Regions from separate parts of the Homo sapiens genome. Here region 2 is linked to region 1. Evidence: fine-mapped expression QTL. Tissue or cell type: whole blood. Region 1 holds a variant in brackets; the other region holds the start of a gene. All regions are shown on one strand. Distances are from middle to middle.

The links. PIP is the estimated chance that this variant, and not a neighbour inherited with it, causes the effect.
Region 2: it holds the start of KLHL23, and the variant in region 1 is fine-mapped to the expression of KLHL23 in whole blood (TOPMed, PIP above 0.99).

What each region holds. Positions count from the first base shown.
Region 1 is chr2:169,753,759-169,764,702 of GRCh38, forward strand. No RefSeq gene overlaps it. Among named protein-coding and RNA genes, the nearest start is that of KLHL23, 25 kb to the left of the region's middle. The variant C/T (reference allele first, on the strand shown) is at 5,775.
Region 2 is chr2:169,728,801-169,738,048 of GRCh38, forward strand. It overlaps KLHL23 (kelch like family member 23), which reads left to right and starts at 5,032. Exons shown (of 4, transcript NM_144711.6): 1 at 5,032-5,287; 2 at 6,213-7,427. The coding sequence starts at 6,215. The region is part of intron 3 of PHOSPHO2-KLHL23 (PHOSPHO2-KLHL23 readthrough); the gene reads left to right. RefSeq lists silencers at 4,903-5,342, 5,363-5,432, 5,543-5,722.

The sequences.
Region 1 (10,944 bases):
GTTTATATGATCAGTTTAGGTGCTGGATCAGCCAGTAGCAGACAGTCAGCCCTCCATCCTCCCTCCCTTCACGTATGCAAAGCAACAAAAAACACTTGTTTTATTAGTCTGAAAATGTCTGAAACTATAAATACGGCTTACATTTCTTAGGCCACAGCAGACACAGCTTGGGGCTTCTGTCTGCCTTAGAGCAGTTCTTCCAAAGGCTGTGACTGTGCTGATGCCCTAACTCTTTTTTTATGAGGCACTTACACTTGGACTATGCTATGGTTTGGATGTTTGACCTCTCCAAGTCTCATGTTGAAATTTGCTCCCCAGTGTTGGAGGTGAGACCTAATGAGAGGTGTTTGGGTCATGGGGGCAGATCCCTCATGGATAGATTAACCCCCTCCCTTGTGGGTGAGTTCTCTGTTCCAATGAGAGCTGGTTGTTAAAAAGAGCCTGGCACCTCCCTTCCTTTCTCTTCCTTTTCTTGCCATGTGATCTCTGCACACACAAGCTCCCCTTTGCTTTCCACCATGAGTGGAAGCAGGTGTGAGGCCCTCATCAGATGCAGATGCCCAATCTTGGACTTTGCAACCATCAGAATCTTGAGCTATATAAACCTTTTTTTCTTTCTTCTTTTTTTTTTTTTTGAGACGGAGTCTCGCTCTGTCACCAGGCTGGAGTGCAGTGGTGCAATCTCGGCTCACTGCAACCTCCGCCTCCCCGATTCAAGGGATTCTCCTGCCTCAGCCTCCAGAGTAGCTGGGACTAACAGATGTGCACCACCACGCCCAGCTAATTTTTGTATTTTTAGTAGAAACGGGGTTTCACCATGTTGGCTAGGATAGTCTCAATCTCTTTACCTCGTGATCCATCAGCCTTGGCCTCCTAACGTGCTGTCATGAGCCACCCCACCCGGCCTAAATAAACCTTTTTTTCTTAATAAATTATCAGTCTCTGGTATTCTTTTATAACAATACAAAATGGAATAAGACAGAAAATTGGTACTGAGGAGTGGGGTATAGCTTTAACAATACCTAAACATGAGAAAGCAGCTTTGGAACTGGGTAATGGGCTGAGGTTGGAAGAGTTTGGAGGGCTCAGAATGTAACCAGACTTAGGTTCAGCTGCTGCTGCTCAAACACCAGACATTAGAGGCTAGGATTGGTGGGAGGAAAAGCAGGTTTAATTGGAGAGCCAGCAAACTTGAGAACATAGTGAACAAGCATTCGAAAGTACCATCTTTATTTTTTTCTTCAACTTTTATTTTAAGTTCCCGGGTAGATGTGCGGATGTGCAGATTTGTTACACAGGTAAACGTGTGCCATGGTAGTTTGCTGCACAGATCATTCCATCGCCTAGGTATTAAGCCCAGCGCCCATTAGCTGTTCTTCCTGATGCTCTCCGTCCCCTCAACCCCCATCCCCACAGGCCCTAGTGTGTTGTCCCCCACCATGTGTCCATGTGTTCTTATCATTCAGCTCCCACTTAAATTGAGAACATGTGGTGTTTGCTTTTTTTGTTCCTGCATTAGTTTGCTGAGGATAATGGCTTCCAGGTTCATCCATGTCCCTGCAAAGGACATGATCTCATTTTTTATGGCTGCATAGTATTGCATGGCGTATATGTACCACATTTTCTGTATCCAGTCTATCACTGATGGGCATTTAGGTTGATTCCATGTCTTTGCTATTGTGAATAGTGCTGCAATGAAAGTACCATCTTACATTTTAAAATTTACCATAGGATTTTTAAAGGGAAACTTGGAGACATGTGGAGGTGCAGGGTACAGGGTCTGTGTGTCTTGTTCCAGTGGTTATCTTGGGTAATGCCTGTCCAGACGTCTGGTTGGCATTATCTTGACTTTGGCCTGATAATGGTGGACTAATTGTTGGTTACTCCCTCCAAATGGGAGAATTCCTCAATGAGGGCTCTGTCCCTGATTTGTTTCAAGGTTAGCCTCTGGGATTTCTCAAGCAAGAGCCTAATTAGATAAGCATACATTGTGCTGAAAGGGAGTGTCTAGAGAGGGAAGGAAGAAAAAGAAAGTGGGTGATTTTTAACACCGAGGCCCCTGGTTACAAGAAGACAAAAAGATGAGGAATTTAGAGATTGGAAATTCTAAGAGGTTGGAACTTCTTACAGATTGATTAATTGGTTATGACCAAAATGCTGATAGAAATGTAGACAGTATGTCAAATGGGGACTTTTAAAAAATTAAAAAAAATTAAAAAAAAATATAGACAGTAAAGGCCATCTTGACAAGGTCTCAGGTGGAAATGAGGAACTTACTGGGAACTGAAGCAGAGATCACCCATGTTACAGCACAGCAAAGAACTTGGCTGCATTGTGTCCATGCCCTAGGGCTTTGTGGAAGACCAAACGTAAGAGTAATGACCTAGTGTAATTGACAGAAGAAATTTCTAAGCAGCAAAGCAATCGAGAAGTGTATGATTACTTTTAACAGCATATGTTGAATTGCAGCAGCAAAGGAATGACTTAAAGGCAGAATTTATCATTAAAAGCAGAGTGTAAAATATTGGAAAATTCTCAGCCTGGTCATGTAATAGAGAAGGAAAGAGCATATTCAGGAGAGGAATCCAAGGGTCAAGCTGGAGCCACAGGTTGCTAAAGAGTTTAGGGTGACAAAAAGGGATCTAGGTACTAATAGTCAAGACAGTGGGGAAAAGGCCACAAAGGCATTTCACAAATCGAAATTTCCGCTGGGCAGCCACCCCTCCCATCACAGGCCTAGGGGTATTAGGAGGACAGATTGGTTTTGGGGAACAGGACCAGGGCACCACTGCTCCTCACTGCTTCAGGATGCTGTTCCCAGGCTGTAGCAGCTGTGGCTCAAATGACCCCAGGAACCCCAGATAAGATTGGTGCTGCTGCTCCAGAGGGCACGAGGTGGAAGCCTTGGTGATATCCACGTGGTATTAATTCTGCAGGCCCACAGAATGCAAGAGCTATGGAGATGTGGCTTCCACTTAGATTTCAGAGGATTTATTGGAAAGCCTGGGTGCCCAAGCAAAAGCCTGCGGCAGAGTCAGACCCTTCACAGCCAGCCTCTGCGAGAGTAATGCCTGGTGGATTTGCAGGAGGGCCACTGCCTTCCAGCCCCCAGAATGATAGAGCCACCAGCAGTGTGTACCTTCAGCCTGGAAAAGCCTCTGGCATTTGACTCCACCTTATGAGAGCAGCCACATGGGCTGCACCCAGAAAAGCCACAGGGATGGGTCTGCTCAAGGCCTCAGGACCCACCAGTGTGCCCAGGTTGTGGGACATAGAGGAGATTATTTTGGAGTTTTAAGATTTAATGCCTGCCCTGCTGGGTTTTGGACACGCATGGGGCCTATTACCCTTTTCTTTTCACTGATTTCTCCCATTTGACATGGGAATGTTTGACATGGGAATGCCTGTATAACCATTGTATCTTGGAATGAAATAACTTGTTTTTTATTTTACATGCTCATAGCTGAAAGGAACTGTTCTTGAATCTCAGATGAGATTTTGGACTTTGGACATTTGAGTTGGTACTGGAACAACTTAAGACATTTGGGACCGTTGAGATGGATGATTGTACTTTACATGTGGGAAGGACATCAGTTTTGGGGGCCAGGGGTGGAATGCTATGGTTTGGAAATTCTTCCCCTCCAAACCTCATGTTGAAATTTGATCCCCAGGATTGGAGATGGGGCCTAATGGGAGGTGTTTGAGTCATGGGGGCAGACCTAGAGCTGTGGTTGGCCAAGTTCCCTGCTGTTGGGACTAAGCTGGCGTGAATGAAGAGAACAGATACAGATGCCCAGTGACTGGGGATGGGGGATGATGTTAACGTCTGGTTCTAGGCCTTCCTGACACAGTTCCATTCCTGTCTTTTCCACAGTTGGATGGTGATGTGACCCAATAGATCCTTTTTTGTTTTGAATCAAGTTTCTATCTCTTGCAACGAAAAATATGCTAAGTCAAGGAAGGGCTTTGTCCCTTGTTAAAATGTAAATATTTTTGGAAAGTGTATTGTGTTTTCTATCACTTCTGTAAGAAATTACCACAAACTTAGTAGCTTAAAGTAATACAAATTTATTTTATAATTCTGCAGGATAGAAGCGTGGTACAGGATTCACCATATCAGTGTTAGGAGCCTTAATTCTCCTTTCCATGTAACCTGATACACAGATTCCAAAGATCAAGATGTAGACATCTTTAGGGGACCATTATTCTGCATACCACAGATAGTGATATATTGTCTTATCCTGACTTTCGCAATTCCATTTGATTTGAGAGGAGTTTCTGACAGAAAGAAAAAGAAAAAAACAAAAAACAATGATGGGTGTCAGGAACTCCTGAGGAGTGGAAGATAGAAAGTAGGTTTAGGAAAAAAAAAAAGAAGTTGGTGACAGGGTCATTGACTATTAGACCATTCTGCCAAGGGCTGGAAGCAAAATATAATGCAAGAGAAGTGACTAATTGTGTCAAAGATGTAGATTATCAAGAGCCCCAGGTCTTTTTGCATATTAGGAGGCCATGTAACTTGAATCTTAATTACCCTAAGCCAATCATGGATAGTCCATCCTCCTTGCCAGTGTTTGGTGGAGGAATGTATGTGAAGCAGTTCTAACCTCTAAGATATTAGAAGAAGGGTTCTAGGGGGGTGGTCCTCTACCAAAAAAAAAAAAAAAAAAAAAGGTTTTTGCTCCTAGGAGAGAGAAAGACTCAAGGTGATAAAGAGTTCATCTTTCTTGAGGCTAATATAAAAAGTTGTTTTCACATAATTTATTTGCCAATTATTATTTTGAGACAAAGTCTTGCCTGTTGCCCAGTCTGGAATGCAGTGGCCGGATCTCAGCTCACTGCAACCTCCGCCTTCTGGGTTCAAGTGATTCTCATTCCTCAGCCTCCCAAGTAGCTGGGATTACAGGTACCCCACCACCTCCAGCTAATTTTTGTATTTTTAGTAGAGATGGGATTTCACCATGTTGGCCAGGCTGGTCTCGAACTCCTGACCTCAAGTGATCTGTCTGCCTTGGCCTCCCAAAGTGCTGGAATTACAGGCATGAGCCACTGTGCCTAGCCCAATTATTATTAAATGTCAATCTATATAAGACAACCAAAGTATTTCATAATATCAAGTATTTCATAAGGTGTTTTAGCTATAGCAATTATTATTTAACAGCTAAGAAATAGAGCAGTGTAAGAAAATAATATTTATAAAGTTATGAAATATCAATACTGATATTAAGGCTTCATTAGGCCAGATGTGGTGATCACACCTATAATCCCAGCACTTTGGGAGGCCCAGGCTAGAGAATTACTTGAGGCCAGGAATTTAAGACCAGCCTGTGCAACTCTATCTCTACAAAAAAATCCAAAAAATTACCTGGGCGTGGTGACACATGCCTGTAGTCCTAGCTACTCAAGAGGTTGGGGTGGGAGGGTCACTTGAGCCTAGGAGTTTGGGGCTGCAGTGAGCTATGATCATGCCACCACACTCCAGCCTGGGTGACAGAGTGAGACCCTCTCTCTCAAAAAAAAAAAAAAAGAAAAAAAAAGCTTCATTAACTATCACAGTAGTAAATAACACAACTTACCAATGTTTCACATTTGAAAGACTCTATATGAAATTAATTCTATTGTCAAGAAATTAAATGAGAGGAATTCTCATTTTTATTGAAGGTAATAAATAAAGCATCACCTAACATTATATACTAGTCGTTTTTCTTATTTATTTATTTATTTTCTCTTGAGACGGAGTCTCGCTCTGTTGCCCAGGCTGGAGTGCAGTGGTG[C/T]GATCTCTACTCACTGCAAGCTCCACCTCCCGGGTTCACACCATTCTCCTGCCTCAGCCTCCTGAGTAGCTGGGACTACAGGAGCCCGCCACCACGCCCGGCTCATTTTTTGTATTTTTAGTAGAGACAGGGTTTCACCGTGTTAGCCAGGATGGCCTCGATCTCCTGACCTCGTGATCTGCCCGCCTTAGCCTCCCAAAGTGCTGGGTTTACAAGCGTGAGCCACCGTGTCTGGCCTTTTTTTTTTTTTTTTTTTTTTTCTGAGACGGGATTTTGCTCTTGTTGCCCAGACTGGAGTGCAGTGGCGCGATCTTGGCTCACTGCAACCTCTGCCTCCTGGGTTCAAGCGATTCTCCCGCCTCAGCCTCCTGAGTAGCTGGGATTACAGGCATGTGCCACCACGCCTGGCTAATTTTGTATTTTTAGTAGAGATGGGGTTTCTACATGTTGGTCAGGCTGGTCTCGAACGCCCGACCTCAGGTGATCTCCCCCGCCTTGGCCCCCCAAAGTGCTGGGAATACAGGTGTGAGCCACCACACCCGGCCAAGATATACTAGTCCTTTTACAAAAGAAGACATGTATGTGGCCAAAAAGCCTATGAAAAAAAGGTCGGTATCACTGATCATTAGAGAAATGCAAATCAAAACCACAGTGAGGTAATATCTCACACCAGTTAGAATAGCTATTACTAAAAAACGAAAAAAATAACAGATGCTGGTGAGGTTGTGGAGAAAGGAGAACATTTATACACTGTTAGTGGGAGTGTAAATTAGGTTCAGCCATTGTGGAAAGTAGTGTGGTGACTCCTCTAAGAGCTAAAAACAACTATCATTTGACCCAGCAGTCCCATTACTGGGTATACATATACCCAAAGGAATATAAATCATTTTACCATAAAGACACATGCCTGCAAATGTTCATTGCAGCACTATTCACAATAGTAAAGACATGGGATCAACCTAAATGTCTGTCAATGACGGATTGCAAAAAGAGAATGTGGTACACATACATCATGGGATACTATGCAACCTTAAAAAGGAGTGAGATCATGTCTTGTGGGAACATGGATGGAGCTGAAGGCTATTATTCTTAGCAAACTAATGCAGGAAGAGAAAACCAAATACTGCATGTTTTCACTTATAAATGGAAGCTAAATTCTGAGAATCCATGAACACAAGGGAGCAACAAACACTTTAGGGTGGAGGGTTGGAGGAGGGAGAGGAGCAGAAAAAATAACTATTGGGGCCAGGTGCAGTGGCTCACACCTGTGACCCCAGCATTTTGAGAGGCCAAGGCGGGTGGATCACTTGAGGTGAGGAGTTCAAGACCAGCCTGGCCAAAATGGCAAAACCCCGTCTCTACTAAAAGTATAAAAATTAGCCAGGCATGGGTGTGCATGCTTGTAATTCCAGCTACTCTGGAGGCTGAGACATGAGAATTGCTTAAACCCAGGAGGCAGAGGCTGCAGTGGGCTGAGATCATGCCACTGCACTCCAGCCTGTGCAACAGAGCGAGACTCTGCTTAAAACAAACAAAAAACACTGTTGGGTACTAGGCTTAATGCCTGGGTAATGAAATAATCTGTTCAACACACCCCCATGACACAAATTAACCTGTATATCAAACCTGCACATGTACCCCTGAACCTAAAATAAAGGTTGAAAAACAAAAACAATATAGTAGTCTTTAGTAAAATTGGGGTATATAAATTATAAAAATTCAAGAAAAGAAGAAGTTGTGACACAAATTTTATGGACTATATAGCAATGAACATAAAAATATGGCCAACAGAACTGTCTTCTTAAAATCCGGGGCATCGTCATACAGTCTTTAACTCTGAATTGAATTTCGATGTTATTTTGAAGTTGTGAGTCATAGACTGTTAAACTCGTACTGGGGCCCTCTGAGTTAAAAGATAATATTTTTGTGGGGGCCTCACTGGACGGGTGTTGAGCATCCTGCTCAAACCTCCAGTGAATATTGCAGATCCCAACTGGCCGCCTCCTAAGGGTGTTCTGAGCTGGTTTAGGAAGAGTCACTGCAAATTGTGCCACGTTGGATACACAAGATTGCCAACATTTCAACTTTTACCTTTGAAATTCAAAACAGACCACAAGATTGTATACCTACAAGTACCTACAGAGGTTCTCGTTGGGAAATCTGAAGTACCAGCACTGTATCCATCAGCCTTAATAGACTGTAGTTAATTATTACCCACTCCCCAACCTTTGTTCAGTGGCATTTAAAAGTCAGGCTGAGCATGTATAATCTGTGAACACTTTCAGCAGAGACTTGTGAAATACATCTTTCATTTGAAAGTTCACAGACAAACTTTTGTTTCTAGTTCTTTCCTGGACAGATAAATACATAAAAGTGGTACTTGTGGTTTCCCGAAGGTGTGTTTCTGCAGCCCTTCTCTAACCCTTTATAGCTTTTCCCTCCTCACACCTTGACCATCAAGGAAATGAGTCGTACCTTCTTCCCTGTCGAGAGAACACAGGCCCTCCTTGTGCGCGGGCAGACATTTGAGATTAGAGCTTTACTAGTTGTATGATTTTTTGAAAACTTTATTTACTGTTAAATATGATACGAATACAGAAATCCACATGAGACAAATGTACAGCTTGAGTTATTAAAGGGCAACTACCTTGCAACTGGCATCCATGTCAGGAGAGAATACCTTGCCAACTACCCCAGACACCCTCCACATGTATCTCCTAAACCCTTATCGATAACCTCTGTCTTCACTATGGGGATTATTTTCTTTCTCTTGGATATTATCCACCTGTATTATGAGCATCCTGTGGCTGCTGTAAAAAATTAAACTAGATGGCAACAGAAATGTGTTCTTTCAAAGTTCTGGAGCCCAGAGGTCTGAATTTGAGGTGCCAGCAGGGCTGCACCCCTGGGGGACCTAGGGAAGAATCCATTCTTTTCCAGCCTCCTGTGGTTGCTGGCATTCCTTGACTTGTGGCCACATCACTCCAATCTCTGCTCCCTGGTCACATTGTCTCCTCCTCTTCCATCTGTGTCAAATCTCCCTCTGCCTAACTCTTATAAGGACACTTGTTGTTGGATTTAGGGCCACCAGGATAATCTAGGATGACTTTCTTTTCTTTTCTTTTCTTTTTTGAGGTGGAGTCTCGCTCTGTTGCCAGGCTGGAGTGCAGTGGCAAGATCTCACCTCAATGCAACTTCCGCCTCCTGGGTTCAAGTGATTCTCGTGCCTCAGCCTCCAGAGTAGCTAGGATTACAGGCACGTGCCATCACACCCGGGTAATTTTTGTATTTTTTTTGTACAGATGGGGTTTCACCATGTTGGCCAGGATGGTCTCGATCTCCTGACCTCGTGATCCACCCGCCTTGGCCTCCCAAAGTGTTGGGATTACAGGCGTGAGCCACCACACCTGGCCTCTAGGATGATTTTCTTAAGATCCTTAATTACATCTACAAAGATCCTTTTTCCAATTAAGGTAACATTCATAGGTTCCAGGTAGTAGGACGTGGTCATATTTGCATTCAACTCACTACATCACCCAACTGTAAATCTCTAAACACTGTATTTAGCTTTGCTTTGTCTTTTAGCTCTCTTATTTTATAAATTCCTTGTCCATCTCTTCTTTATTTCAACTCCTGGCAGTGTATTTGTTGAAGAACCTTGATCATATATCCTACTTTTTCAATGTTGGTATTTTACTGATTCATGTTGTGTAGATTAGCACATTCCTCTGTTCTCTGTATGTCCTATATGTTGATACTTAGATCTAGAGGCCTAATCAGATTCAGGTTTGATTTTGTTTTTGTCAAGACTACTTCATAGGTGATGATGTGTTTGACAAAAGATACCTAACATTTGGGCCAGGTGTGGTGGCTCACGCCTGTAATCCCAGCACTTTGCGAGGCTGGGATCACTTGAGGTCAGGAATTCGAGACCATCCTGGCCAACATGGTGAAACCCCATCTCTACTAAAAATACAAAAAAATTAGCCAGGCATGGTGGCGGGCACCTGTAATCCCAGCTACTCAGTAGGCTGAGGCACAAGAATCGCTTGAACCTGGGAGGTAGAGGTTGCAGTGAGTCGAGATGGTGCCGCTGCACTCCAGCCTGGACAACAGAGTGATACTCTATCTCAAAAAAAAAAAAAAAAAAAACCTAACGTCTGGTTATCTGTGATGTTAGCAGCTGTAGATGCTCAATCCTAGATCCTTAATTCATTAAGGGTTGCAAAATGGTGATTTCCAATGCTATTGTCTCTTCCTTTTTTTTTTTTTTTTTGAGATAGAGTCTCGCTCCGTCGCCCAGGCTGGAGTGCAGTGGCACGATCTCAGCTCACTGCAAGCTCCACCTCCTGGGTTCACGCCATTCTCCTGCCTCAGCCTCCTGAGTAGCTGGGACTACAGGCGCTCGCCACCACGCCTGGCTAATTTTTTGTATTTTTAGTAGAGATGGGGTTTTACCGTGTTAGCCAGGATGGTCTTGATCTCCTGACCTCGTGATCTGCCCGCCTCGGCCTCCCAAAGTGCTGGGATTACAGGCATGAGCCACCGCGCCTGACCGCTGTTGTCTCTTCTTGGTCTATTTGTTTAAATACTTCTATAAAAAGAGACATTCCCTCATTTACTAGTTGTTTACTCAGAGTTACAGTTTGTGTAGGAAAGGCAGGTTAAATGCTTGATTCTTCCCTTTATTTACTAGTTTGCAAAATAGTTGTTAGCGTCCTCCAAAGATGATTTATTAGGTTTATTTATTTATTTTTTTGAGACAGGAAGTCTCGCTCTGTAGCTAGGCTGGAGTACAGTGGCATGATCTTGGCTCACTGCAACCTCCGCCTCCCGGGTTCAAACGACTCTCCTGCCTCAGCCTTCCGAGTAGCTGGGACTACAGGCGTGCACCACCACGCTCAGCTAATTTTTCTTGTATTTTTAGTAGAGGTGGGGTTTCACCATGTTGGCCAAGATGGTCTCAATCTCTAGACCTCGTGATCCGCCCGCCTTGGCCTCCCAAAGTGCTGGGATTACAGGTGTGAGCCACCGTGCCCGGCCGGTTAGGTTTTTAAAAAAATCATTATTTAATCATTTTTAAATCATTAATTTAAACATTTTTTTTCAGTCCACTGCAGTTACTCTTATTCATGCATGATTTATTCCATCTTGAGCCAGTGGAATCGTC
Region 2 (9,248 bases), 26 kb before region 1:
CAATGGCACAATCTTGGCTCACTGCAACCTCCGCCTCCCAGGTTCAAGTGATTCTCCTGCCTCAGTCTCTGAGTAGCTGGGATTACAGGCACCCACCACTACGCCTGGCTAGTTTTTGTATTTTTAGTAGACACAGGGTTTCACCATGTTGGCCAGGCTGGTCTCGAACTCCTGACCTCAGGTGATCCGCCTACCTTGGCCTCCCAAAGTGCTGGAATTACAGGCGTAAGCCACCATGCCCAGCCATTTCACATTTTATTTGCGGTATTGTCACTTTTTATTTCCATGCCATACTTTCATCCTTGTTGGTCAATACCCTTTCTCAATCACCCATTTTTGTAAAATGTCACATGGGTTTTTTACTAGCAGACAAGGAGACAATGCAACTGCAAGCCTTACTGTCTGTATGTGAACTGACAGATGCACAGAGATCAATCACTGACAGACTTTGAAAGAAGATACATGATTGGTCACTGATCAGGATGCGCATTTGTTAATGTAGTAATTCATGGACCTGAGGAGCTAGCAGCAAATTTGTATTTTATGCAGTTACTCAGAGTTAATTTACTTCAGTAACTGAAATTTGAAACCTTGTTCTCAGGGGACAGGTGTTATTTAACTAAACCATGGTAACTAAAATTCATACATATTGGAACCATTCAAAGAAAGCATTTTTGGCCAGGCCAAAAAAAAGAAAGACTTTTCTGTATGGTTTTATACTGAATATCTTTTATTAATCTCTTAACCTTCTCTGTGACAAAAATGTGTATAAATTACAATTTGTATGTCCTTGATGGTTTTATATCTTTGGTTATTTTACAAATCCTGGTCTAATTAATATTATAATTATTATTATAATTAATTAAACATAAATATGTTTAAATCAAAAGTAAAAAATTATTAAAAATTATTTCAATCTGATGAATAGGGCTACTTTCATTTAGAGTATGAAGTCAAGTAGTGCTTACTGCTGGAATGAGACAGTATTTAGGTTCAATAATGTTCCTGCTTAACATTTCTATAGACATAATCGCTGAGAAAACATGTTCACAGAGACAAATAGGTAAGAATGAGATAAATTTTATCATAGTGGCCGGGCGCGATGGCTCATGCCTGTAATCCCAGCACTTCGGGAGGCTGAGACAGGTGGATCACCTGAGGTCAGGAGTTCAAGACCAGCCTAGCCAACATGGCAAAACCCCATCTCTACTAAAAATACAAAAATGAACTGGGCGTGGTAGCATGCACCTATAGTCCAGCTAATCAGGAGGCTGAGGGAGGAGAATCTCTTGAACCTGGGAGGCAGCAGTTGCAGTGAGCCAAGATTACACCATTGCACTCCAGCCTGGGTGACAGAGTAAGACTCCGTCTCAAAAAAAAAAAAACAAACAAAAAACCTTTTTTATAGTAATGCCATTCATTTTGTCATTCCCTCCAAATTATTTGCCAAAAATCCTCTTTCACTTTTGCTGGAAACCAGGAATTGGAAACCTGTGACTTGCAAAAGCATTTTTACCTAGTTATTAGAATGTTCACTTTCTTATTTTACAGGAAACATACCAAAAAAGGTTTTACCAAGACACATCGGCTGCAGGGCAGCCACAGATACCTGCGTTGGTTGTGTACTATACAACTCCTGAGAGCAGTGTTTACACTGTACTCTACTTAAGTTGCATGAGCTGGAATTGTGCAGTGCACAATTTGCAAAGCTGTATGTGGTAGCCTTATACATTTTACCTACTATTGTTTTTTATTTTGAGACGGAGTCTCACTCTGTCGCCCAGGCTGGAGTGCTATGGCGCAATCTTGGCTCACTGTAACCTCCGCCTCCCAGGTTCAAGAGATTCTCCTGCCTCAGCCTCCTGAGTGGCTGGGATTATAGGCGTATACCACCACACCTGGCTAATTTTTGTATTTTTAGTAGAGATGGGGTTTCACCATGTTGGTCAGGATGGTCTTAAACTCCTGACCTCATGATCTGCCTGCCTCGGTCTCCCAAAGTGCTGGGATTACAGGCGTGAGCCAATGGGCCTGGCCTTTTTTTTTTTTTTTTAACTTGGCAGCAACTTGTTTAATCCAGTATGTAAATGAAGTATACAAAATGTTCTATCTATGCCCATCATCTACACACATTGTTAATGATATCACAGCATATCAAACATTTAATGGCATGGCTGTACTTAGTGGAAAGATGTACTAATAAGGTAAAAATTATAAATAAAATCATTATTTTTAGAACTCGGAGTCCTTTGAAAGCTGAAGTGTGATGTCAATAAGTCATCTAACTCCATGCCAAGCTTAGTATCTGCCAAATCATTTATGTCTCATTTCCATGGCAGCACTTTATTTCTTTAAGACTTGGAACCACAGATGGCACATCTGTTTTCTTGAACGGTATCATTAATTTATTTGATTTATGAATGCTAATTATATGTTTCTGAATGCATCAAATCTATCAGCATTTGCAATGGTCTCTTTGATAAGCACATGGTAAAGAGGAACTATGCCAGGCAATACCCTTCAGGACCTGCTCTTCTCTTAGCAAAGTGAAGCAGTATAATAGTCTAATATGTAATATACACTGATATACACTTTTAAGTAGTAATTCACAACCAGGGAACATCACGAAATGAAAGCAAGAGTTTTAGTTGGTTCATGCAGCCATCTGAAATAACTGCATAAATGAGAATATAGTGAATTCTATTATTCATGAATCATTTATTATTACATGTAGTTATGATTCCAGAAGCCCTTACTCCAAGTTAGATGGAGCCTATATTTTTTTATACATCAAACTTGGCAAACAGTAATTATAGCTGCAAAAACAGCCATCTCTACACTTCAGTGACAAAAATGGAGAGAAGTCTCCTTCAATCAGTCACAATTGTGTCCTTGAATGGCAACAGTGACAACAGCATCACTATCAGTTATGAAGGGCAAGCTATAATTACTATTAACTATGAAGTTCATAATTTCTGAAGAAATGTTAAGAAGATGCTAATTTCCAAATTAAGGTTGTGATGCAGAATTAAGTGTAAATATTCTTTCATTATAGTAGCTAACATTTATATATCAAGTCCTAAGTGCTTCATTATTAATTTGTCTTTCCAATAACCTTAGGTTAGGTTGAGAAAGTATCCATGTTGTCTGTGTTTTACAGATCTGAAGACGAAGGATCAGAGAAGTTTAGTAATTTGTGAGAGGCTATATGTTGGATAAGTGGCAGAGATGAGCCTTAAGCCCGAAACTAAATCTCATATGCTTTCCTTTTCTAACTATACTGTTTACCAGATGTTGGGATGTTAAACTTTCATCCTTCTTCCTTTTGGGTCCAACACATTCTCTTATTTGTCCATAAGAATCACCTGCTGCCCTTGATTAGAATGCAGATCCCTAGGTCTCCACCCCGCAGACGTCTGTGCGTGGGGTGTGGTAGTTGTGGGGGCTGCATAACCAGCATCTTACATAATTCAATTAAGATGATCTGACTTGTGGAATTAAACTAAAACCCACCCACAGGAGAACCAACAGATGCTATTTATTCAGAGTTTGCTGTAGAAGGGAGTCCCACTCACCATCACTTTGTCAGAGGCTCAAAGGTGGGGCAGACGAGTGGGAAAGCTTTATAGAAGTGAAGAAAAGCCCCCGGTATGCTCTGATTGGAAGTTGTTGGCATGGGAAAGCTGCAGGTGGGCTACTAGAAGCGGGGGTATTTTATGTGATGGGTTTGCGGAACATATTTGGCTTTCTCTGGTTGGTGCAGAGGTGGAACTAGGGGTAAAAATAGGGAAGTTGCACTTTGGAAGTCCCAGGCAGGAAGATCGCTTGAGTCCAGGAGTTTGAGACCAGCCTGGGCAACATAGTGAGACCCTGTCATGAAAAAATATTTAAAATTTTTCAAAAATTGCACATCTGTAGTCGTAGGTACTTGGGAGGTTGAGGCAGAGGATCTCTTGAGACCAGGAGATCGAGGCTGCAGTGAGCTAAGATCGTGCGACTACATTCCAGGCTGGGCAACATAGCAAGACCCTGTCTCAAAAAAGAAAAAAAATAGGGAAATTGCCAGTCGTTGACTACTTCCTGACTGTTCTGGTTCAGCTGCTACCAAGGTTGTGGTCTGGCTTCCTGGGCTTCTTATGTGGTTCAGAGTTCTGTTGTCACATACTATCTGGCCATTCATGTATATTGCGTTTCTGAGACCATACTCTGGGAAACACATGGTCCTCTGGTGGTGGTGAAGGTCCCTGTGAGCTAGGGACCATCTGTCAACACTCTTATCACTACTAGTGTCTATCCCTATCAGGCACTAGAAGCACTTAATAAAATCTTGCGAATGAATGAATGAATGATATACAAAAATATTTGATACTGGCTTTAGTTGGAACAAGAAAATGAACTTTGTGTACCACATAGACATCTGTGACTAGAGTGGCCGTCACCAGAAAGGCTGCTCCTTCCAGCTGCTATGCTCTAAATACAATAACCTGAATCTTAGCACGACTGGACTTCGCCTGGACTTCGCCTTGGCCCCGGCTGCCCAAAGTTTCTCTCAAAGCTTCAGCTTAACCCCTGATGTGCTCACCAGCACCAAGGCGCCCTCCTGAGTGCTTTGCTGGGGGTGGGATGGCGTTTGTGGGAAAGGCCGGCTACTTCTGGCATTTCAACGGCGCCTCCAATCCCTGACCTTTAGTTGTGCCCCATTCTCTCCACTCTTTCCCCCTTCTCTGTCCTCACGATTGAGTCTGGGCTGGCGAAGCCTACTGAGGGAGGGGAGTGTACACACATGCACACGCGCGCGCGCGCACACACACACACACACACACACACTCATATATGGTGTTATTAATAATTCAGGACTCAGAGTTTATCTAAGAGAAGACGCTCGACCGGGTGTGAGAGAGCGCGCGGGACAGAGAGCGAGCCAAGGAAGGGGAAGGCGGCGGCGCGCGCTGTCTCCTGGGGAAGCAGTCCCACCTGCTGTGGGGGGCGCCGCTGGGGAGGGGCCGAGCCGTGCTCACGCCTGCACGCCCCGCCCCGCTCGCCGCACGGCCCGGCGACGGGGGAGTTCCCGCGAGTGGCCTCGCGCCCAGACCGTGCGGGGGGCTGTTCGGGTGGAGGCGGGGGAGCCGCCGGGACACCAAAATAGGAGCTGCTTGTGGGGTGGAGCGGCACTAGCTGGCGGCTTCCGAGCGCCTCTTCCAAAGATGGTCAGAGGGGCCGGAGGCGTCCCCGCTCCCGCTCGCTACTAGCCCGCGGGCCAGCGCCGCGTCCCGAGCCCCGGCGGGAGGTAGGTGCGGTGTGGACCCGCAGCCCGAGGCCGGCCTGCTGGGAGCGAGCGGGGCCGGGCGCGGGGAGCGGGGCCGGGCGCGGGCAGCGGGGCCGGGCGCGGGCAGCGAGGCCGCGCGGGAGAGGAGCGCAGACAATGGCCGCGCGGGCGCCGGGCCGGGCCGAACGCGTTGCGCTGGGGCTGCCTGCGGCGTCCTTCCCACACCTGCGCGGAGCGCCGGGCAGAGGGACGCGGGCACCGGGCCCGCGGGCGGCACGCGGCGCCCTCGAGTCCAGCCCCGCTCCTGGCCCCGGGGCGGGGCGGTCTCCGGGCGGGAACGTGGGCCGGGGCCCAGGCGCGGGGCGCGCGGAAACCCCTGCGGCGGGCGCGGGGGAGGGGGCGAGGGCTGCAAGGGCTGCGCCGAGCTGCCTTCCTTTCTCTCCTTCCTTAAGCGAAAGGGCTCGGGATTTCCCTTTTCCGAGACCTCTTCTTGTCCATTTATATTTCCATCATCCCTTTCTTGGCATTTCGATGTGATTTGAAAGGGAGACGAGCTTGGGGAAAAGGTTGAATTGGGGCCGAGCCGAGACAGCTGAGGTCCGGCCTCGAGTGGGGTGACCCTCGGACACTTGCCTTGCCTAGTGTGGGATCTCATCTCCGAACGCCAGGCCAGGGTAGATTGCGGTGAATGGAATAGCAAATCAGTACTCTCAAAAGGACTACTGAAAAATCCAGGAGCCTCATTTCAAGCTCCGAGCTACCCTGAATTTAAATTGACCACCATATAAATGATCAAACAGTCCATCCACATTTTGCATTTATTATTTAGATGCTGAACTTAGTCCAGTTTTGGAGTATATCCGATGATAGTCAAGTTATTTAGCGTTGATTATTTGAGAGAATGTGCAACATTGAAAACACATTTGTTATTTCATATTTATTGCAGCCATGGCTCTAAAAGGACAAGAAGATTATATTTATCTTTTCAAGGATTCAACACATCCAGTGGATTTTCTGGATGCATTCAGAACATTTTACTTGGATGGATTATTTACTGATATTACTCTTCAGTGTCCTTCAGGCATAATTTTCCATTGTCACCGAGCCGTTTTAGCTGCTTGCAGCAATTATTTTAAGGCAATGTTCACAGCTGACATGAAAGAAAAATTTAAAAATAAAATAAAACTCTCTGGCATCCACCATGATATTCTGGAAGGCCTTGTAAATTATGCATACACTTCCCAAATTGAAATAACTAAAAGAAATGTTCAAAGCCTGCTTGAGGCAGCGGATCTGCTACAGTTCCTTTCAGTAAAGAAGGCTTGTGAGCGGTTTTTGGTAAGGCACTTGGATATTGATAATTGTATTGGAATGCACTCCTTTGCAGAATTTCATGTGTGTCCAGAACTAGAGAAGGAATCTCGAAGAATTCTATGTTCAAAGTTTAAGGAAGTGTGGCAACAAGAAGAATTTCTGGAAATCAGCCTTGAAAAGTTTCTCTTTATCTTGTCCAGAAAGAATCTCAGTGTTTGGAAAGAAGAAGCTATCATAGAGCCAGTTATTAAGTGGACTGCTCATGATGTAGAAAATCGAATTGAATGCCTCTATAATCTACTGAGCTATATCAACATTGATATAGATCCAGTGTACTTAAAAACAGCCTTAGGCCTTCAAAGAAGCTGCCTGCTCACCGAAAATAAGATCCGCTCCCTAATATACAATGCCTTGAATCCCATGCATAAAGAGATTTCCCAGAGGTCCACAGCCACAATGTATATAATTGGAGGCTATTACTGGCATCCTTTATCAGAGGTTCACATATGGGATCCTTTGACAAATGTTTGGATTCAGGGAGCAGAAATACCAGATTATACCAGGGAGAGCTATGGTGTTACATGTTTAGGACCCAACATTTATGTAACTGGGGGCTACAGGACGGATAACATAGAAGCTCTTGACACAGTGTGGATCTATAACAGTGAAAGTGATGAATGGACAGAAGGTTTGCCAATGCTCAATGCCAGGTATTACCACTGTGCAGTCACCTTGGGTGGCTGTGTCTATGCTTTAGGTGGTTACAGAAAAGGGGCTCCAGCAGAAGAGGCTGAGTTCTATGATCCTTTAAAAGAGAAATGGATTCCTATTGCAAACATGATTAAAGGTAAGTGGAGATTATGTTTATTTTGTATTTTTTAGATGTCTGGAGCTAGGCCAGCAGTCTCACTTCTCTTGAATTTATCACTTTGGGATGCTATCTAGGAACTATAGTTAATTATACAAATAATGCTACACAGAATGTTCCAGATAAAAACAGTATAGCATAGTTCCCAACTTGTCTGAGAGTTATGAGAATTTATATTCAAGTCAAGGGCTAGATGAAGAGACAAATCTGGACAGTTTTTCATTTTTTCATGTTCTTAAAATTGAACCCTTTAAAATTCTGCTATTCAACTTTTTCCTCTCAAAATACGCTGATCAGCTCTCAAGAGGTCCTTCATTAAAACCTTGGAAGGTTTGGTCCCTACAGGATGTAACAAAGTACATTCTTCCAGGAACTAGAGACAACGTCTGCTTTTGCAATTCAGTCCTCTCTGAGAGGGGCAGACACCATACTCTCCCTCATGTGGCCCACAGAACCCGGCACACCCCTGGGTCTCGGTATCTGTCTGATAAACACTATTTTCTGCTGTGTTTGGCGATTTGTTTGCCTTGCTCTCCTTCTCTCCCACTGGAAAAAAAGTTAAACGGGAATCTTATTTCATTGTATTTATTCATTGGTGCTGAGGAGTTGTACAAAAACAACTGGTAGGTCGTTACCAAATTTGTATCATTTTGTCCCAAATGTTTCTTCCCAGGCTTTTCTGTTTCTTTTTTAATGCTAGTGAGAGTGTGGGAATTTGACCTGGTCTGGAAATCTGACCTGGTATGATCCTTGGATGACAGGCAGGAAGCTGAGAGGCAGAACAGTCTTGGGATCAGGCACGCTGCCTCTGAAGCTAAACTGCCTGCATCCAGATCCCTGCTTTCCTCTTACTTGCTGATGAGCTCTGGCAAATTGTTTAATCACCCTGTGCCCCCGTTTTGTCATCTGTATAATGGGGATGACAATATTACCTAGTCTCGGATCATTGAGAGGATTAAATTAATCTATGCTTGTGAAGTGCCTAGAACAGTGTCTGACACAGAGTAAGCATGCTATAAATGTTACGCATGATTGTCCTGAATGTCGGTATTGAAGGACATGTCAGCTCTTATAGAGCAGAAATTGATTTCATGTGAAGTTGTGACCACTGTCACACCAGGGTGGGAGAAGGTAGCAGAAAGCCCGGTGCTGTTGCTCCCCTGGTTTTTGTCTTTGCCTGAGTCTCACCACTACTTGCCGATTCCAGGAGGGCTCTGAATGTCCTGACCCCTCTTCTGCAAAAGAAATAAGAAAAGTCCATATATTTAAGGAGCTATTGTAAACTAGCATACATTTCTGATTCTGTTTTTTAAGGATGATATAACAGTTTCAATGGTTTTGTGGTTCAGAGTATATTTCTTTTTCTTTTTCTTTTTTTTTTTTTGAGATGGAGTCTCACTCTGTCTCCCAGGCTGGAATGCAGTGGCGTGATCTTGGCTCACTGCAACCTCTGCCTCCCGGGTTCAAGCAGTTCTCCTGCCTCAGCCTCCTGAGTAGCTGGGATTACAGGCATGTGCCACCACACCTAGGTAATTTTTGTATTTTTAGTAGAGACGGGGTTTCACCATGTTGGCCAGGCTGGTCTTGAACTCCTGACCTCAAGTGATCCCCCCACCTTGGCCTCCCAAAGTGCTGGGATTACAAGGGTGGGTTCAGAGTATATTTCTTTGAGAATGAAAGCTTATTACTTTACTGAAATTTTAAAAATTTATATTTAGAACAGTGCTTGTTGAAAAAAGATATGCTGCGATGGTGTATCTACTGTGAAACAAAAGCCATATGCATGCTTGCGTTAACCTT